4 separate regions of the Homo sapiens genome follow, and all the other regions are linked to region 1. Evidence: fine-mapped expression QTL. A gene starts in region 1. Each other region holds a variant in brackets. All regions are shown on one strand. Distances are between the middles of the regions. Region 1 holds the start of AGA (aspartylglucosaminidase). Region 2 has its middle 45 kb from the start of AGA. Region 3 overlaps AGA-DT (AGA divergent transcript). Region 4 overlaps AGA-DT (AGA divergent transcript).

Region 1 (5,000 bases):
AAATAGGACCTGAACGGTGTTCTTACCCATCCATGATCATGGCATCTAGTGTGGTTTCTCCAAGTTCATCAGGACTTCCTCCAAAGCCTACAGAGCCGTCACACTGCTCTCTCTCACACATGGCACAGCCGCTCTCCACTGCATCCAGGGCAGAGCCTCCAGATGCTAATGCCCTCCACGCTGTTAATCAAATCCCAATAATGCTTGTTTATATATATATTTTTTTTTCAATGCCAAATGCAACAAACCAACTCCAATTTAACAACTTTTTCACATTTACTGAGTTAAGCTGATTTTTTAACACATTAGTTTATCAAGTGTTACAAAGGAGTCAGTGAAGAGTCAAAATTATTTAACTAGTTATCAGAAGAACTCAAAAAACTGGCTATTGGTGCAAGCTGAAGGTTTTTTTTTTTTTCACTTACTAATATCTATCTCTTCTGTGTGCGAGAAACGAAATCAGTATCCCCTCCTTTATTTTAAAAGGTACAATCGAAACCACTAAAAGGCAGTTAAATAAAAAATCCACTAAACCGCAGCCTTCTTCACACATTTCTTCTGCATCATTAGATTAAAATATGCATAATTGATATGTGTATTGAGGTAACACCTATCCCAGGAAGTCTTAATAATACTGAACAGCAAACAATTACAACGTGGACTTCATATGGATTAGTTCATTGAGTCTTCATAACAGCTTCTGTGGTAGGTACTGTACAATCACGACCCTCATTTTAAAGAAAAGTAAACAGAGCCACAGGTCAGGCAGTTAGTTTAAGGTCACACAGCTGGTAAGTAGCAGAGCCAGGATCCCATACATTTGGGGGTGTGGGGGGAAGGGTCTTTGATGGACAATTTCTTTTCTGGTAACAACAGAATTCCTTGAAGAGTGGGTGCTCTGGTTGGTAAACACTACAGCACCTACAGGCTTGAAAGTGTATTTACGCAAGTTCCCTCTTTCAATACAGGCAACTTAAACACAGAACTGTCCCCCGCCCAGGCTGATGCAATTTCTTTTCGTCTCATTATGGCTGGGAATATCTTTCTCACAGCCTGCTTCTTCATTTTCTCTGAATCGTATGCACTGCCACCAAATTCTGGAGCCAATTCTGCCCTAGAAAGTTAATACGTTAGCAACCTCAGATGGAGGAGGAGGGGTCTGAAAATGACTCTTCTGGTCATTAAGCAAATGAAAGAAACAAGCATAGTACAATGCGAAAATGCCAAGATAATGGTACGTAAAGGCTATTAACAAGGTGTAGAAGGCAGGAACCTAACTCATTCTGGACACGAGGGCAGTTAAGTCAGGGAACGCTTCCTGGAAGAGGTGATACCTTAGCTTAGTGGTTCTCAACCCTGTCTGCAAATCGAAATCACCTAGGGAGCTTTTTAAAGAAAAACAGTGGCCCTGATTCCAGCAGTTAGATCACAGTCACAGGAGGTGGGCCCCGGCAGGATGATTTTTGAGAAGCTCCCCAGATAGTGTGAATGTACAGCAAAGGTTGGAACCTTGAATTCTAAGTGGCAGGTAAAGTATGACAACACGTGGCAAAAAAAGTAAATGGGAAAAGAGTAGGCTATGGCTGGGACACTATTAGTCGTCTACAAAATTGCAAAGAAGTGAAGGATTAGAAACGAGAGGTGGAGACGTACACAGCCCGTGAAAAGACTGTCAGGCAGAAAAGCGTAGCTGCTACTTGATTAAAGCACAAAGGCCATAACTATGGTCAGCAGCAGGGTGGAAAATACATTGCGCTGGGGGCTGCATGAAGGGAGGACCTAAAATGCAACAGCGGTAGGTGGGGAGGATGCAGTAAAGGCCACTTGCAAGAGACTGAGCGGCGCTGGAGACTCGGGAAGACCTAGAGGGCGGGACCGCGAGGCCCGGCCCAGCCCGGCGCTCTTCCGTCCGCCCTGCCGGGTGACTGCAGCGGGGCGGGCTAGTCATCCCCACCCGCAAGCTCTCGCGGCGCAGCCGCCCGCCCAGGCCGCCAACCCGCACCTGCTTCGGTTGCATTCTTAAAGGGCCAAGTGTTGACGACCAGGGGCAGAGGGCTGGAGCAGCGCACTAGGGCCTGGCAGAGCAGAAACGGCACGAGAAGCACAGGCAAGTTCGACTTCCGCGCCATCCCTGACCACCGAAGAGACCAGCGCGAGAAAAGTCCCGGCAGCCAGCGATCGCCGAACAATTAATCCCCAGTGCCCCGCCCGCCTGGCGCCCACGCCCGCTCTCTCGGGGGTTCGCTCAGGCGTCCCTCAACTCTCGCGAGACGAGGCGTCCCTGGGCCCGCGGGAGAGTTGTGTCACGGGGCACTGAGCTGTTCCCTGCGCTAAGGTGCTTCTTCCTAAGTGCTGTTCAGATTTTTAAAATAGCCAGACAAGTTGCTGCTTTTCCTGTGGTTAAAATAGATTTAGCTTGATATTGGGAATTTAATACAAAATTATTCAACTCTGGGTTGCAGGGCCCCAGGAACTTTAGCCGATTGCTGTGTACTATGGATTTGGTTCTTTTACTGTCTTTTTAATTTAAAGTTGAAGTTGAAAAGTTTGTCAAACTCAGTATATTCTTGGGGATCCCAGGCCTCGGAGGTCTGCAATAGTTATGAGTGTAGGTGAAGCGTGTTTGCTTAGGACCGGATTGATTTTAGATTTTTTTTCCATTCATAGCGTCCGTCATTTTCGCACCACAGCTTTTTGTAGCACTTCCTCTCATTATAAATCCCTGAGCTGGAAGAAAAACAGAAACGGCCTATGTACCCTCTACCTAGCACACTGAAGTGCAGCTTCCTGCACCTCCAGGGCAAGACGGCTACCTCCATTCCTTTTTAAATGTATTTTTACCTTCCTGCCTGGCACTATTAAGTGCTAAATAAATGAATAAGAGGAGGAATGGGGATTTTACGTGCTTGGTGGAGGCTGCTCAGTTTTGTTGCTGGGCAGACGTGCGAACATGAACTAATAATCCCTTTGGGTGTCTGGAATGCCTGCCCAGGTTGCCAAGGCAAGACACATAATCACATAATTTTTAAAAGCATCTATAAATCTATACAAACTTTAAAAATATGAACTAGGCTGGGCACGATGGCTCACGCCTGTAATCCCAACACTTTGGGATGCTGAGGTGGGTGGATCACGAGGTCAGGAGTTCGAGACCAGCCTGGCCAACATAGTGAAACCCGTCTCTACTAAAAATACAAAAATTAGCCGGGCGTGGTGGTGCATGCCTGTAGTCCCAACTACTTGGGAGGCTGAGGCAGAATTGCTTGAAGCCGGGAGGTGGAGATTGTGGTGAGCCGAGATCGCACCACTTCACTCCAGCCTGGACAACAGAGTGAGATTCTGTCTCAAAAATAAATAAATAAATAAATGTAAAAATATAAACTAGGTAGGAGTTGTGAGACTTACAAAACCTTCAAGGCTCTTATTGATTGCTAGGAAATTAAATACATAATTTAAAGAACATAAGATAGCCCAGAAGTATCATTATCCCGTTGGGGAAGTGTTAATTAAAAGATATAATAAAGACAAATTTTCTAAGTTCCTTTCATGGGGTTTGGAAGAGGAACAAGTCATCTGTGCTGGAGTAATCATAACCCAATGGCAGGTGAAACTGGAAACTTGGGTGAAACAGGGTAAGAAAGCCAGAAAAACATACATTGTCCTCTGAGTAAATTTTCCTTAGCTCCTGGGCTGAGTATTTTTATGCAGCCTTAAGGAATTAGGACATGCCTTTAGCAAAAATTGTAAAATACAATACATGGAAAATTGGTCTTAGTACCCCACTGATCTCTCTAGCCTCTTCCTGTTTTTTAAGGTATTTGTGTTTCTTCTGGTGGAAAGAGCCTGATCTGTTACCTCCTACTATGTCTATTTCTCCAAATTCTTTCTTCTTAAATAAAAATTCCTGTCAGAGAAACAGCTAAATTACACTATAGTGGGAATGGCTGATAGAAGGTCTCAATATATCAACTTTTCCATGGATATTTGTATGTATGTATGTATGTATGTATTTATTTTTTGAGATGGAGTCTTGCTCTATCGCCCAGGCTGGAGTTCACTGGTGTAATCTCAGCTCACTGCAACCTCCACCTCCTGCATTCAAGCGATTCTCTTGCCCCAGCCTCCTGAGTAGCTGGGATTGCTACTGCCTACTACCATGCCCGGCTAATTTTTGTATTTTAAGTAGAGACAGGTTTTGCCATTTTGGCCAGGTTGGTCTTGAACTCCTGACACAGGTGATCCACCCACCGCCCCCACCCCCCCGACCTCCCAAAATGCTGGGATTACAGGTGTGAGCCACCGTGCCCAGCCGGATATTTGTATTTAAATAACTAATATGCAATCCCTATAGAATCTACCCGATTCAGTGTCTTCTTAGTGGCTACTAAAATACCTACTGGATCCACTGTCCAGTTTGCCTAAATTGTAGCTGTTTCTTAAGTTAAATTCGTCTGGATATTTGGTTCCTTCTGGAGTAGTTTTCCTTTGACTAACACTTGAAGAATAATTTTCATTTTAGTTCTAGAAGTAACCTTCTGTTACTCTCACTTAGGTGCTCTTTTGGGCCTAAATATAATTAGATCCTTCGCCGTTGTTTTGAGGTAAATCTAAACGAAAAGGAACACCTGTTAACAGGTAGTGATGCCGCAGGAAAGTGCTGGGAAGGGAATGCTGGGAAGGGAAGGGCGTGGTCCCTTTAAATGATAAGGAAGGGGGGCGGGAAGTGCTGGGTAGAGGAGGGCGTGGTCCCCAGCTAGGGCTTCATCCCTGGGCCTGGGCCTACCTAGGTGAAGACAGGCATTTTTGTTTTCCTGCCCGGATGTTGCATTTCCCAAGACCACCCTGGCCTGCCATGCCCTCATCCTGTGCCTTTAAAAACCCCCGAGACCCTGGCAGGCAGACGCACAAGCAGCTGGACATTGAGAGGAGCATATAGGCAGAGAATACAGGGGCTGCTGGATGTCGAAAGGAACGCACCAGCATAGGAGCACACCGGCATG
Region 2 (5,205 bases), 45 kb before region 1:
GCATGGTGCCAAAAGCCTGTAATCCCAGCTACTCCAGAGGCTGAGGTGGGAGAATTGCTGGAACCCAGGAGGCAGAGGTCAAGGAGGCTCACTGCTTCCTTGAACTCAGGAGGCAGTGAGCCAAGATCGCACCGCTGCACTCCATCCTGGGTGACAGAGCCAGACTCCTCAAAAAATAAATAGAGAAGCCACTGGATAAAGCAGGTCTTGATTCTAGTTCTCCTTCTGCCTACTTTTAGGAGCTTGGTAGGCAAGCCATTCAGCCTTTACAAACCTCATTTGTTATCAGCAAAATGTGAATTACAAATAGTGATTCTATCTACCTCCCAAGGTGGTTGTTAGGATCAAAAGAATCAAATCTGGGAAAACACTTGAAAAACTTTAACATGGAACACAAATGTAAGCTATTGCATAAGACCAAATTAAATATCTTACATTTAATTGTACTTTTTCCCATCTATCAGTTATAAGCAGGTCACCTGAATTTAAAAAATAACTGATACAGAGTAATGTGTGTGTGCATACCATTCTGGCCATAGAGCATACTGAGAAGACAATATTATAATTCACTGCCTAGTACCATTAGTTAGAATGTTTTCAATCCAACCAGGTGATCTACTTTCTTCCCAAGCAGCTTTTAAAAAAGGTACCAAACTGCCATTAAGTGAAAAAAATAACCATTTTATAAACTTCACAGACATTTACTCCTTTATCTTTCTTGTCATTTGCACAGAAAATAAAATTTGCACAGAAAGCACTGAGTTCACTTACTTGAGAAGTGAGGTGATTCGGTTTTCTCTTCCCTTTGGAATCACCACTTTCCTTCTGCTGTTATTCTATGTGGGCTTCACTAATCATAGAATGGCAGTTTCTTAATCAAAATTGTTTTATTTTGAACACAAAAGCAAATTAAGCAGATTTTTTAAGAGATGGAATCACACAGAGTTTATCTTACCTCCAAAGGAATGGATTGGGTTTGGTGTTTGAGTTTTATTAGGAAATTTATCATAAACTCAGGTCAGATATATTAATAAGTATTATATTTGGCTCAAATGAAAGCAGAGGGGAAAATGACGTTAGGGATAGTGATGGTTGAGAAATAAAAGCCACAAATTATTTAATACTCCTGAGCAACATCAAACAAAACACCTCCAAGTTAAGGGATCACTTTTTACACAGCAATATTTACTATAACAGTGGTCCCAAAATTATTTTATGTTGAACTTAGGTAGTTGGTAAGACTAATATTCAATTTTCAAGAGACCGAAGTTCCTACCCCTTAGGTAGTTGGTAAGACTGTTATTCAATTTTCAAGAGACGGAAGTTCCTACTCCTGGTTTTATCATTCATTAACCTGTGAGCTAGCCAAAGTGTCATTTAAATGTGCTGATTCCTTTGTCTATAAAATGGGAATGTCTATTATTTTAAGTTATTATAAAGTTCAAATGAGAATACATGTAAAACTCTTTTCAAAAGGGAGCATGTGGAAGCATTATCATTATTCTCGATTTAACCAATAAGAAAAATTGTAATGTTAATCTCTTATAGTACAGATTTTGTGTTTTTTTTTACAAATCAAATTTTCCAAGAAATGTTTAAGGTGTTTTCTTATTTTCCAGAGTAATATTTATTGTTAGATTGAGGGAGTGGGTGGAAAGAATACAAATTCAAGTCAAAGTACATAAAAGCATATGCCTATTTAAAGTTTCATTTTCTTTCCCATTCTTATTGTGATATTACTCAGCATGATGTATTACGGGCTTTAGGGGTGATTTGTATTCATCGTAAAATTTTCTCTCAGTACTATTAGAGCCCATTGTGGGATGCTTAGGACTGTCTGAAAGTCATTTATCATTCAGAATTTATGATAAAACCACTGTTAGGCAGCTTCTAGACACTCTGTCATATTTACCCTTCTGGAAAGCAACATAGTGAAAGAACATTTGGGAAGTGACCTTGATGCTTTCATATTGTGCTATTGTAAATATCATTAATGCTAGAACTTTTAAACATCCATCCTATCAAGAATCAACTGCTAAGATGTCTAAAAAGCTATATT[C/T]CTACATTTCATTTCTGACTCTTTTCCTCAAATTGTAAATGAGCTGTTTCTAGCAAGCATGGTCCTTGATGTGGCATTGGAGTCTACTTTTTAGATCACTGACATTTACTAAGGCCTTTCAAGAAATGAAGGCCACATTCTTCAGACTGTATTTCTGGAAATTATGTGCATATTTAGCTGGATTTGTTTTTCTGTGCAAGGAAGAGACTAGAGACTTGCTGTGCAACGTTATTGGGATGCCCCCTTGAATAAGTCTCAAAGGTCTGAGCAGCTGCTCAGAATGGGAAGTTGTGCTTCTTTGCCAAGACAAGTATTTTTCATTTTCTAGAGTCATAGATTACATTGGACAGAGAGAAAATGTTCTGGATTCTTATTGTCCCAGTGATACCACCATACTACCTACCTTGCATGCAAGTTGGTGTTGAACAATGCAGTGAATCTACAGTGCTAGTGTGTATTCTTCCTCCTTATTAGGGCAATCAAGAAAAAACAAAACTACCTTTGTCCAGAATTTAAGACGATGACAACTCTCAGTTTTGAAGGGTAGAAATTATTTAAGTGCTATTTTTTTCTAGCACCAAAGCCACTTCTTCCGTACAAAGTACTTAGATTGTAAAAGTTTCTTGTAAAAAAACACACAAAAAACTTCCATGATTCCAAGGAAGAAAAAATGCAAAAACATTACACAGTCCCCCCAGAGAGTTGGATGCTGTCCCTTTTTCAAGGCTTGTTGCTCCATTTCTTTTCTCCTGACCCTACCCACCAATATAACCAGTCTCTCCTTGCCTAACATGTCCTTAGACTTTACTCAAACTGTTCCCACTACTAGTAATGCCATTACCTGATACTCCAACTGTTGAAGTCCTACCCTTCCTTCAAGGCCCCATTCAAATTCTGCTTTCTAGGTCTTCCCATATGTTCTCCGATCAAAATGATCTGTCTTCAGATATACCTTCATGATAATTTGCTTATACTTCTATTAATGGCTTATCGTCAACCTTATTTTATCATTAGTTATCTACTGTGTTTGAAATAAAAAATGGGCAGCATGTTGGTTGTCAAGAATTGTGGAGCATCTGAGATTTTATCCAAAAGTAAGCTAACATGTTTACCTATCAGATTCATGAATGCTGGCAGAAGACATGAAACTCCTGGGTCAGAGACAAAGGACTTTATTACACAAAGATATAGCAGTAGCTGGAATATCAGCATTTGTCCCAGTTCTCTAAACTCCAGTTCCCAAGGGAGACACAAAGAAGGCCAGGTAACGCCTGCATGTGCAGTGGGTTGCCCTGTGGAGAGGAACCCTGAACTCACGAAGCCCAAATCCTTTATAATAAGAAGTAAACCTTACTAAATTTTGCCTGGAGACATTAATTTATTATTCTAAACCACAAACAAACCTGTCCTTTGCTCCAGAGGCAGCTCCCTTTACTGTCTTCCAAGTCTGTTCACTAAACAAACATCCTTAGAAAGATACCCCAAAACAAAGGTGGTCTGTACCTCTGCACCTCTGTCCGTAAGACATGAAGAAATGTAACAGACCCAGAAAATTGATTCCCAACATTAGTTTCCTCTATACTGCCCACCCTTCCCCTTGATTATAAGCCCCTAGAGGGCAAGAAGAATGTCTTATTATAGTTCTCATGGAATAAATGCTGTTTGTTCAAGAAAGTCCATTACATCTTCTGAGTAAATAGAATGATCTACCAGAGATGTTAATAATTTCCTATGTCAACACACTATTTTTAGAGAAATGTTTCTGCCCCAGCTGTCTGGAGACCAATGAGAATATACATTTTTTTGACAACACAGTCTCCCTGTTCTACATGAGTTTTTCTCTTTGGGGGTAACTAATTCTCAGGCCTTCCATTTCCTATTTCTTCTCACTCCTTGCCACAAACACAGTATTTTTCTACTTTTATTCTTGCCCTCGCCAATACCAAATCCTAGGAAAAGAGTGAGATTCATTTGCACCGGGTATAAAAAGCTTTAGTGTCACCCATCTGAGACTTAATGTCAACTTCCATTAAGTGGGAAAGAAATAAAAATTTTGAGAATGTAGCAATTGCTAGAAACCATAATAAATAAAAATGTTTGACTGCTGTTCTTGAAATTGTTCATTCATAATACATTGATGAACATCTACCCTACCTACACACAAGAGTAAGCTTCAGGAATGAGTATTCATACTACAAGGAAGTTATTTACGATGGAAGTACTCTGAGAGTAGAAATACAGCATTTTTATTATCACTTATATATCTGCTATTTTAAAGCTAACACAAAGCAACACAAAATGGTTTTGAATCAGGGACAAGAAAAAACATTGTCCCTGCTAAGACAATCATGTAGTAGTATATATTCTTTGTCTAAGACAATTCTTACATAGGACAGGCACGGTGGCTCACATCTGTAATCTTAGCACTTTGGGAGGCTGAGGTGGACGGATCATGATGTCAGGAGATCAAGACCATCCTGGCCAACATAGCGAAACCCCATCTCTACTAAAAATACAAAAATCGGCTGGGTGTGGTGGTGCGTGCCTGTAATCCCAGCTACTAAGGAGGCTGAGGCACAAGAATTGCTTGAACCCAGGAGGCAGTGAGCCGAGATCACGCACTGCATTCCAGCCTGGCAACAGAGCGAGACCTCGTCTCAAAAGAAAAGAAAAGAAAAGAAAAGAGAAGAAAATTCTTACATAACTCAAGGTTTTTTTCTTCAAATTAACACCCCTTCTAAACATTGAGAGTGCCAAGAGAGTTTGAAAGGGCCAAAGGGGATGGTGATGATCTTAACAGAAGAAATATGCCTGTATGAGTATGGCATATTTGAGTGGTGTGAGTGGTAGCTGCATGGATTTTATAAAAAGTTCAAATAATGCCTAGGGGATACACTGCATTGTATTTAATGCAGCATTTGCATGGGAGTTGCCAGAACTCTCAGAGGTGCTTTCATAGTGTGTCATTTTTAAACTCTGTAGGTATAAAGATGGTTGTGATAATTATGGGCCAATTTTGCTAGTTAATATTCACTGCAAAGTATCAGACCCCATATATTCCATGCCTGGTGCCACTCCAATATTCAGGATTGCAAGTCAAAGTTACCACCTCAGAGAGAACCTCTCTGATCACCAGTCTAAAGCTG
Region 3 (5,205 bases), 58 kb after region 1:
TTTGAATCTAATGTAAAAGTGCAGGAAAGCATCTCTGGACATTTTGTCTTTTTTTTTTTTTTAAATCTGTGACATATAAACAACATAAAAGCAGTACACTTGCTTCTAAACTGTAACTTAAAAAAATCCTCTAGTCCCTTCCCCAGCAAGCCTGCTGCTCCTAGGCCCTGCTATGTGGAAGTTCTGTGGCTCTGGCGAAGCTCCCAGGTAGCCTTTGGGACATAAACAAGGGGACTCAGAACCAGAAGATGTTAGGGTTCCTTTCAGAAGCTACCAGATGTCCTCTGAGACTACCAGATAGGAAAGAGACTTGAAGGGAAGGTAGGGTTGTGTGTTAAGCAGATATAAACAGGGCATACGCCAGTGGAATTTTAATTACGACTGCTAATAATAGTAATTATTATGTAGAATTTTTAAAATTTATTTTATTTTATTTTTCCATAATTTATTGGGAGATATATATATATATATATATATGCCCCAGTTTCTTTATTCACTCATTGATTAATGGGCATTTGGGCTGGTTCCATGGTTTTGCAATTGTGAATTGTGCTGCTATAAACATGCGTATGCAAGTATCTTTTTCAAATAATGACTTCTTTTCCTCTGGGTAGATACCCAGTAGTGGGATTGCTGGATCAAAGGGTAGTTCTATTAATAGTTCTTTAAGAATCTCCACACCATTTTCCATAGTGGCTGCACTACTTTCCATTCCCACCAGCAGTGTAGAAGTGTTCCCTGTTCCCTGCATCCACGCTAACATCTACTGTTTTTTGATTATGGCCATTCTTGCAGGAGTAAGGTGGTATTGCACTGTGGTTTTGATTTACATTTCCCTAATCATTAGTGATGTTGAGCATTTTCTCATATGTTTATTAGTCATTTGTATATCTTCGTTTGAGAATTGTCTATTCATGTACTTAGCCCTCTTTTTGATGTGATTGGTTTTTTTCTTACTGATTTGTTTGAGTTAATTGCAGATTCTGGATATTAGTCCTTTCTCAGATGTGTAGATTGTGAAGATTTTCTCCCACTCTGTGGGTTGTCTGTTTATTCTGCTGACTGTTCCTTTTGCCATGCAAAAGCTCTTTAGTTTAGTTAGGTCCCAGCTATTTATCTTTTGTTTATATTGCATTTGCTTTTGGGTTCTTGGTCATGAAATCCTTGCCCATGCCAATGTCTAGAAGGGATTTTCCAATGTTATCTTCTAGAATTTTTATAGTTTCAAGTCTTAGGTTTAAGTCTTTACTCCATCTTGAGTTGATTTTTGTATAAGGTGAGAGATGAGGATCCAATTTCATTCTCCTACATGTGGCTAGCCAAATACCCCAGCACCATTTGTTAGAAAGGGTGTCCTTTCCCTACTTTATGTTTTTGTTTGCTTTCTTGAAGATCAGTTGGCTGTGACAGGTGACAACGTGCTAGCAGCCCTTGCTCACTCTCGGTGCCTCCTCGGTCTCAGCATCTGCTCTGGCCACGCTTCAGGAGCCCTTCAGCTTGCTGCTGGGCTGTGGGGGCCCCTTTCTGGGGCCAGCGGAGGCCAGAGCTGGCTCTCTCTGCTTGCAGGGAGGTGTGGAGGGAGAGGCGTGGGCAGGAGCCAGGGCTGCGCGCAGTGCTCACGGGCCAGCATGGGTTCTGGGTGGGCGCGGGCTCCCAGGGGCCTGCACTGGGCATGGCAGGCTGGCCGCCTGCTGGGCTTGATGGGGGACAAGCTCCCTCTGGGCTGTTGGAGAGTGCCCAGGCTAGGTGCCACAAAGTCCTGCCGCGAATGCCATTGAGAGGTGAAGCTGGCTGGGCTTCTGGGTCGGGTGGGGACCTGGAGAACTTTTCTAACTAAAGGTTTGTAAATGCACCAATAAGCACTCTATGTCTAGCTAAAGGTTTGTAAATGCACCAATCAGTGCTCTGTGTCTAGCTAATCAGGTAGGGGACTTGGAGAACTTTTGTGTCTAGCTAAAGGATTGTAAATGCACCAATCAGCACTTGGTGTCTAGCTAAAGGTTTGTAAACACACCAATCAGCTCTCTGTAAAATGGACCAATCAGCAGGATGTGGGTGGGGCCAGATATGGGAATAAAAGCAGGCCACCTGAGCCAGCAGCGGCAACCTGCTCGGGTCACCTTCCACGCCCGTGGAACGTTTGTTGTTTCACTCTTCGCAATAAATTTTGTTGCTGCTCACTGTTTGGGTCTGCGTCACCTTTATGAGCTGT[TACACTC/T]ACAACAAAGGTCTGCAGCTTCACTCCTGAAGCCAGCGAGACCATGAACCCACTGGGAGGGACGAACAACTCCGGACAGGTGGAGCAAACCACTCCGGACATGCCACCTTTATGAACTGTAACACTCACTGTGAAAGTCTGCAGCTTCAGTCCTGAGGCCAGCGAGACCATGAACCCACTGGAAGGAATGAACAATCCAGACGTGCCGCCTTTAAGAGCTGTAACACTCACCGTGAAGGTCTGCAGCTTCACTCCTGAAGTCAGTGCGACCACGGACCCACCAGAAGGAAGAAACTCTGGACACATCTGAACATCTGAAGGAACAACACATCATCTTTAAGAACTGTAACACTCACCGCGATGGTCCATGGCTTCATTCTTGAAGTCAGCGAGACCAAGAACCCACCAATTCCGGACACATAAGTATTTGGGTTTATTTCTGTGTTCTCTATTCTGTTACATTGGTCTATGTGCCTATTTTTATGCCAGTACCGTGCTGTTTTGGTGACTGTGGCCTTATAGTATAGTTTAAAATCAGGTAGTGTGATGCCTCCAGATTTGTTCTTTTGCTTAATCTTGCTTTGGCTATGCAGGCTCTTTTTTGGTTCCCTATGAATTTTAGAATTGTTTTTTCTAATTCTGTGAGGAATGATGGTGGTATTTTGATGGGGTTTGCATTGAATTTGTAGATTCCTTATGGCAGTATGATCATTTTCACAATATTGATTCTACCCATCCATAAGCATGGGATGTGTTTCCATTTGTTTGTGTCATCTATTATTTCTTTCAGTAGTGTTTTGTAGTTTTCCTTGTAGAGGTCTTTCAACTCCTTGGTTAGGTGTATTCCTAAGTATTTTATTTATTTATTTATTTTGCAGCTATTGCGAAAGGGGTTGAGTTCTTGATTTGATTCACTGCTTGGTCGCTGTTGGTGTATAGAAGAACTACCGATTTGTGTACATTAATCTTGGACCTGGAAACTTTGCTGAATTCTTTTATCAGTTCTAGGAGCTTTCTGGAGGAGTCCTTAGGGTTTTCAAGGTAAGCAATCACATCATCATCAAACAGTGACAGTCTGATTTTCTCTTTACTGATTTGGATGCCCTTTATTTCTTTCTCTTGTCTGATTGCTCTGGCTAGGACTTCCAGTACTATGTTGAAGAGGAGTGGTGAGAGTGGGCATCCTTGTCTTGTCCCAGTTCTCAGAGGGAATGTTCTCAACTTTTCCCCATTTAGTATTACGTTGGCTGTGGGTTTGTTATAGATGGCTTTTATTACATTAAGGTATGTGCCTAGTATGCCGATTTTGCTGAGAGTTTTAATCATAAAGGGATGCTGGATTTTTCAAATGCTTTTTCTGCATCAATTGAGATTATCATGTGATTTTTGTCTTTAATTCTGTTTATGTGGTGTATCACATTCACTGACTTGAGCATGTTAAACCATCCCTGCTCCCTGGTATGAAACCAACTTAATCATCATGGTGGATTATCTTTTTGATATGCTGTTGGATTCGGGTAACTAGTATTTTCTTAAAAATTTTAGCATTTGTGTTCATCAAGGATATTGGTCTATAGTTTTCTTTTTTGTTTGTGTCCTTTCCTGATTTCGATATTAGGCTGATGCTGGCTTCATGGAATGAGTTAGGGAGGATTCCTTGTTTCTCTATTTTGTGGAATAGTGTCAAAAGGATTGGTACCAATTCTTCTTTGAATGTCTGGTTGAATTCTGCTGTGAATCCATCTTGTTCTGGAGTTTCTTTGTTGTTGTTGGTAATTTTTAAATTACCATTTCAATCTTGCTGCTTGTTATTGTTCTGTTCTGTATCTAATTTTTCCTGATTTAAGCTCGAAGGGTTGTATTTTTCCAGGAATTTATCAATCTCTTCTAGGTTTTCTAGTTTATGTGTGTAAAGGTGTTCATAGTAGCCTTGAATGATCTATTGTATTTCAGTGGTGTCAGTTGTAATATCTCCTGTTTTGTTTCTTAGTGAGGTTATTTGGATTTTCTCTCTTCTTTTTTGGTTAATCTTGCTAATGGTCTTTCAATTTTATTTATCTTTGCAAAGAACTAGCTTTTTGTTTCATTTATCTTTTGTATTTTTTGTTTCAATTTCATTTGGTTCTGCTCTGATCTTGGTTATTTCCTTTCTTCTGCTGGGTTTGGGTTTGGTTTGTTCTTGTTTCTCTAGTTCCTTGAGCTATGACCTTAGATTGTCTGTTTGTGCTCTTTCAGACTTTTTGAAGTAGGCGTTTAGGGCTATGAACCTCCTGTTGGCATCTTAGAACTGCCTTTGCTGTATCCCAGAGGTTTTGATAGGTTGTGTGTCATTATTGTCATTCAGTTCAAAGAATTTTTAACTTTCCATCTTGATTTCATTTTTTACCCAATGCTCATTCATGAGCAAGTTATTTAATTTCCATGTATTTGCATGGTTTTCAAGGTTCCTTTTAGAGTTGATTTCCAGTTTTATTCCACTGTGGTATGAGAGAGTGCTTGATATAATTTCAATTTTCTTTAATTTATTGAGGCTCATTATATGGTCTGTCTTGGAGAGAGTTCCATGTGCTGTTGAATAGAATGCATATTCTGTGGTTGTTGGATAAAATGTTCTGTATATATCTATTAAGTCCATTTGTTCCAAGGTTTAAATCCATGGTTTCTTTGTTGACTTTCTGTCTTGATGACCTGTCTAGTGCTGTCACTGGAGTATTGAAGTCCCCCAATATTATTGTGTTGCTCTCTATCTCATTTCTTACGTCTATTAGTAATTGTTTTATAAATTTGGGAGCTCCAGTATTAGGTGCATATATGTTTAGGATTGTGATATTTTCCTGTTGGACAAGACCTTTTACCATTATATAATGTCCCTCTTTCTGTCTTTTAACCGATGTTGCTTTAAAGTTTGTTTTGTCTGATATAAGAATAGCTAACCCTGCTCTCTTTTGGTGTTCATTTGCATAAAATGTATTTCTCCACTCCTTTAC
Region 4 (5,205 bases), 140 kb after region 1:
ACTGAGGCTGGGTGCAGTGGCTCATGGCTGTAATCCCAGCACTTTGGGAGGCCGAGGCTGGTGGATCACCTGAGGTCAGGAGTTCGAGACCAGCCTGGCCAACATGGTGAAACTCCATCGCTACTAAAAATACAAAAATTAGCCGGGCGTGGTGGCAGGTGCCTGTAATCCCAGCTACTCGGGAGGCTGAGGCGGGAGAATTGCTGGAACCTGGGAGGCGGAGGTTGCAGTGAGCCAAGATCGCGCCATTGCCCTATAGCTCAGACCAACAACAGCGAGACTCCGTCTCAAAAATAAAATAAAATAAATAAAGAACTGAAAGTCTTATCATTTGTTTTGAGCTTTTCTTCTTGTGTTTCTTTTTGAATGAAATATCTGCTTATTTAAAATATTTTAGTAGACCTTTTATGTTCAAAATCTTTAGGTAGGGAAAATGGGAGTATATATTTAGAAAATTATAGATTGTGATGCTTACAAAAAAGTCATCATAAGTTATCAAAAGAATAATGGATGGTTCAAAAATGTCTAAATGCTTATGAAGCTGATTGTCAATGATGTGTTATTTGGAACCGTATGGGTCAATTTGACAATGTGTACTTAAGGATGTCAGGCGACATGTTGCTGAACTGACTGCACTGCCTCTTTTAAAAATGTTTTAAAAACTGGCCGTATATACATTTATCTATGTGGTCTTTGTTAGTATATTTTTCACTGTTTTAAAAATATTTTTAAAAACAATTTAAAAAATCTTAAAGAAATGAACAAAATGGATGAACACACTAAACAAGCAAACAACGAAAAAGCAGAGAGAGAGGAAAAAAAAAGCTCTTACCTTGCAACATGCTATTTTGAACTTAATCTGACAGAATCGCAGTCAGTCCATTGTTTGAAGGTTCTCAAAAGAATGTGAGATCTTATTTGATTGAAAGAAAACATGGCTTTCAGTCATAATTTTCACATTTCACTGGACTTACTTTATTTTCATTGTAGAGTGGTATTTCATGACCTTGGCAAGGTTATAAAACCATTCTGCATTGATGTAGCATATCCTATAGATGTTAGAATGACCTGGTTAGTATACCATCTCTTTCAAAGTAGTCCCAAATGATTATTAAATACATAATAATATATTGAATACTTTCTGAGATCCATAGTTTAGCATCCAGTGTCTCTAAGGACTGTTACATGTTAATCCAAGGAAGAAAACGGTATAATCTATATTATGATGAAAAAATCAATAAATGTGAATGAACAACATTGATTGATTTATAGACATAATGAAAAGTAGTGAAAATAGCTGAGAGAGTGATAATTTGCTGCTATGATATTTCATTGTAATTAATTAGTTGTTCATATTTTCTTAGTTGAAGAGATTTTGAAATTTGACTTTCCATATATTACCTGGGAGATGGCATTAAATGAAATAAAGCCTATTGTTATTATTCCCAATTAATAAAATCTTGTGTATTTGTTGATAGCATGCTTTTGTAAAACAACTTTTTTGGTGGCCACACAAGAACACACATAACAATGTTGTAGGCATTTGAAAAAGGAGCATAGTAAGCTTGAAGGGAGTGTTAAAAAATGGACTATTTTACCTTCATTTGCTTCACTTAATTGTTCTAAAATGTTAATAAAGAAAGTTGTTATTATATTTTTAAACTTTTTGTATTGGTTTCTTTGTTCTGTCTTATTGGGAGTATAGTTTTACTTATCTTTCTCTATAAAAATAGCAATCTGCAAATAGATATGTTTTAAAATGTCTATAGCCACCTATCAATTAAAGAGTATGTCATCTTCTGTTCCAAAAGACTCTAAAATAGAAGTCATTATAATGATTTAGATGTGACATTGTGTGAGTAGAAGGCTCTGTGAATGATCTCTAAATACTTCTTAGGGCATTAAGATTGTGAGACTTTCTGAATGAAGTTTGGGTGTTCCCCAAGCAACCATTAGTCATGGTAAGTTATTCATGTACATGATCTCCTTATCTTGTCTAAATAATCATTGTTAGCACATGACCTTTAGCAACATTCATGTTATGCTCACTGACAGAATGTAAAGGGACTCTACATTTGGCATGCTTAGTAAATGGCTTCAGGTTTTGGTTGCACTGATGTCTTTCTTTGTGAAGACTCTAGAACACCTTTGACTTCCTTTAGTAACACTTATTTGTCAGAGAATATTTAGGGACTTCAATGAGACACTCACAAAAGACAGTTCCTACCACAGTGGGTTCATCACCACCACCACCCTACTACTGTAGTGTTTTGGGTGTTTGTTGGCCACTGTGGTGCTGGGGCCCTCACTATGTCTTTGCTCCCTCCACCTCTCCTGCCCGTTGCTCCAACTCACCTTTCAGACTGATGCCAGACAAATCTTCCTCAAACACTGCTCCTATCGTGACCTATG[T/C]GAGTGAGGGTTTTGTGGATTATTTTTTCTTTGGCCCAACCGTGAAAATAATTTAACCTAATCTATTTTCCTTTTTGTTTTAAGTAAGAAAATGAAGAGTGAAATTCGGCATAGCCAAGTAATCAGCATCCAGCTGTTTCAAGTAGTGTGTAGCCCACCATCTCTTCCTCCTGTTTAATTAAATTCATTAAGTCCATTAAATTCGTCAAGCAGACAATGCTTGGTTTTATTCCCTGATGCCTAATTTTGCATCATATTGTACTGTGTATACCACTTCATGTCCTCGTGGAGATAAGTGCAGTATAATTCTTAAACAAGAAATCTCAGGCTTTTGCTCAAGAACTTCAAATGTTTCCCAGTTTTCTACTGTGTCAGTTCTAAGTTCTGCTATGTGGTTTACAAGATTCTCTGCTCCATGTATTTATTTACCACGAATTCTCAAAATGTACTCTCTGTCTAATTAGGCCTATTAAGTTTCTCTGAAGCTGTCATAGCCCTTCTCGCCTTTGCTTTCCCTGGAGCCCATCATCTTGCCTCTAATGTACTCTCTTTTCCCCACTCCTATGTCAATCTCACCATTCTGTCCTTGAGAGACTAACTCACACAACTTTTTTATGAAGCCCACTGTAATTATTCATGGATCTCCTTCTTTAATAGTAAATGTTTCTGTTTCTGTGCTGCAAAAAAAATCATTCTTAAATCTTGATACATTTTGCATTGACTCCTTAACTATATTATACATTTTAGGATTTTCGTGGGTAGGAATTATGTCTTAAACTTTTTATGTTTCACAAAATCTCGAATATAAGATTGAGGACTCATCTAGTAAGCATTTTGTGGCAGAGATCTAACCTCTTTTAATTCTTCTACATATTACAGATTTTTAAATTGCATAGGCTTTAGTTGAGATACGTGGCAGAAACCAATGTTTCCTTCTATTTCTCTGCATTCTCTAGCCTTCCATCTTGTTCTGATTAATGAACTATGAGCAGAAATGACATCAATTCCAGAAGAAGTAGAAGCCAGCAGGTGTGTCTCCACCATCACTGTCTTCTCCTGTGACTTGGGAGGCCTATGTTCCTGATGGCAGAGTAGCAACATGAAACAGGATTTGTATCAGATTTCAGGTGGACCAGAAATACATCTATGTTGTTTTAAGCCATGGAAACTTTGAAGTCTGTCTCTTGCAGAAGCTAAATTTAATTATCCTCAGGAGTATAAGATTCAAATGGTGGTATACATGTTTTGTGGAATCTTCACGTATATGTATATTTGTTTTATAGAATCTTCACATATATGCATATTCAATTTTATATACATGTATGTTTTATAGAATCTTCAAACATTAATTCAGATATTTGTATTCTCTAGAACTCCAGAGTTCTGCAACCTCCCTAAGAATCTCTTCAAAGTAAATTAACGTCATTCATATCTACAGCAAACAAAGGCACCTATATAATGGTTTTCTCAGTTATAGCAAATGTTGGCTTTGACTGCATTTTGACATTAAACATTGTTGATGCCATTTCTGAATCTACTGCATAGTTGTAATCTTAGTTGGAAATACTGTTGGTTACTGGTTGGTCAAGGAGATTAACCCCGGAGTTTGAGACTTTATTCAGAGTTCTTCTTTTGGACTTGAAAAAAAATCTGCTAAGAGAACTTGTCCCATTTTAGGTTATGCTGAAGCATGACAAGATGTACAGAAATATTCTGAATTCTAAAGGAAGCTCAATATTATGTAATCTCAATTTGTAGTATAATGAAAAAAGTGTGAATGAGAAAGTCAAGGAGTAAAGGTGAATTTGATATTCCATAACTTCAGTTTTACTTCTGCTATATATTTCTTTATTAATAGTAATAGAGCACATCGCCAGTCATTTGATAAGGAGTGATTAAAAAAATCCGTTACCGAGAAAAGCTATCCTTTTGAAGTTCTCTCATTTTAAAAAACACAGTTTTAAGTATCAGATTTTTTCTTTCTAAGTTTTAATGTTAACCATGAGCTCATGCTGTCATAGTGGCTTAATAAGAATTACTACTACATATAATGTGAACAAAAACCTTCATGTTTATTTTGATATTCAAAATGCAAAGTTGGACCAAGATAAAACAGTTAGTTATCCAGCTAATAAAGATATAGGTATGATAAGAGATACTTAGACAATGAAACCTCTCATATACTATTGGTAAGAATGTATTCTTCCTGGAAAGCAGTTTGAAAATGCATACGAAAATCTCTAAAAATGTATTCTTTCCCCCATAATCCTAGTTCTCAAAATCTATGCTAAAAGATAATCACAGATATTATAAATGTGTGTATATTAATTTTTCATAGTTCTTAAAAAACTATAAATCACTAAACGCCAAAACAAAGGTCACGATTAAATATACTTTGGTACATTTTGATGATGGCATATTTTGCAGTTGCTAATAAACAATTTTTAAAGATAACTTAAAATATTTAATGGTATGTGAAAATGTTTGCAATATTAAGTTGAAAACCGGGTATCAAACTACATATTCGATGACTCCAATTTAATAAAATTTATGTAGCTACTTTGAAAAAACAATGAACAGAAATACACAGAAATATTAACATCAATTGATGTTGGTAGTGTTTTTTGCTTTATAAATTTATACATATAGAAATGAAGAATATAGACAGACTTATAGAAACTACTAAATTATTAAGATAAGCATCTGTTGCCTTGATTAATGGAAATCACCAAATTCTGCGCCAGCTGTATGGAGTGTGTTGTAGGCCTGTCATCTTTCTGTTCATGCGGTTGC

Evidence for each region. PIP is the estimated chance that this variant, and not a neighbour inherited with it, causes the effect. A credible set is the group of variants that fine-mapping cannot tell apart.
Region 2: its variant is the best candidate, but not a certain one, in a credible set for the expression of AGA in whole blood (INTERVAL, PIP 0.62).
Region 3: its variant is the best candidate, but not a certain one, in a credible set for the expression of AGA in whole blood (TOPMed, PIP 0.51).
Region 4: its variant is the best candidate, but not a certain one, in a credible set for the expression of AGA in whole blood (TOPMed, PIP 0.59).

The regions. Positions count from the first base shown.
Region 1 is chr4:177,440,247-177,445,246 of GRCh38, forward strand. It overlaps AGA (aspartylglucosaminidase), which reads right to left and starts at 2,191. Exons shown (of 9, transcript NM_000027.4): 1 at 2,003-2,191; 2 at 27-180. The coding sequence starts at 2,129. It overlaps AGA-DT (AGA divergent transcript), which reads left to right and starts at 4,764. Exons shown (of 4, transcript NR_183779.1): 1 at 4,764-5,000. RefSeq lists enhancers at 1,237-1,316, 2,143-2,686, 2,777-2,856.
Region 2 is chr4:177,394,739-177,399,943 of GRCh38, forward strand. No RefSeq gene overlaps it. Among named protein-coding and RNA genes, the nearest start is that of AGA, 45 kb to the right of the region's middle. The variant C/T (reference allele first, on the strand shown) is at 2,060.
Region 3 is chr4:177,498,096-177,503,300 of GRCh38, forward strand. All of the region lies in intron 1 of AGA-DT (AGA divergent transcript), which reads left to right. Among named protein-coding and RNA genes, the nearest start is that of AGA-DT, 56 kb to the left of the region's middle. The variant TACACTC/T (reference allele first, on the strand shown) is at 2,213.
Region 4 is chr4:177,581,203-177,586,407 of GRCh38, forward strand. The region is part of intron 1 of AGA-DT (AGA divergent transcript); the gene reads left to right. Among named protein-coding and RNA genes, the nearest start is that of AGA-DT, 140 kb to the left of the region's middle. The variant T/C (reference allele first, on the strand shown) is at 2,413.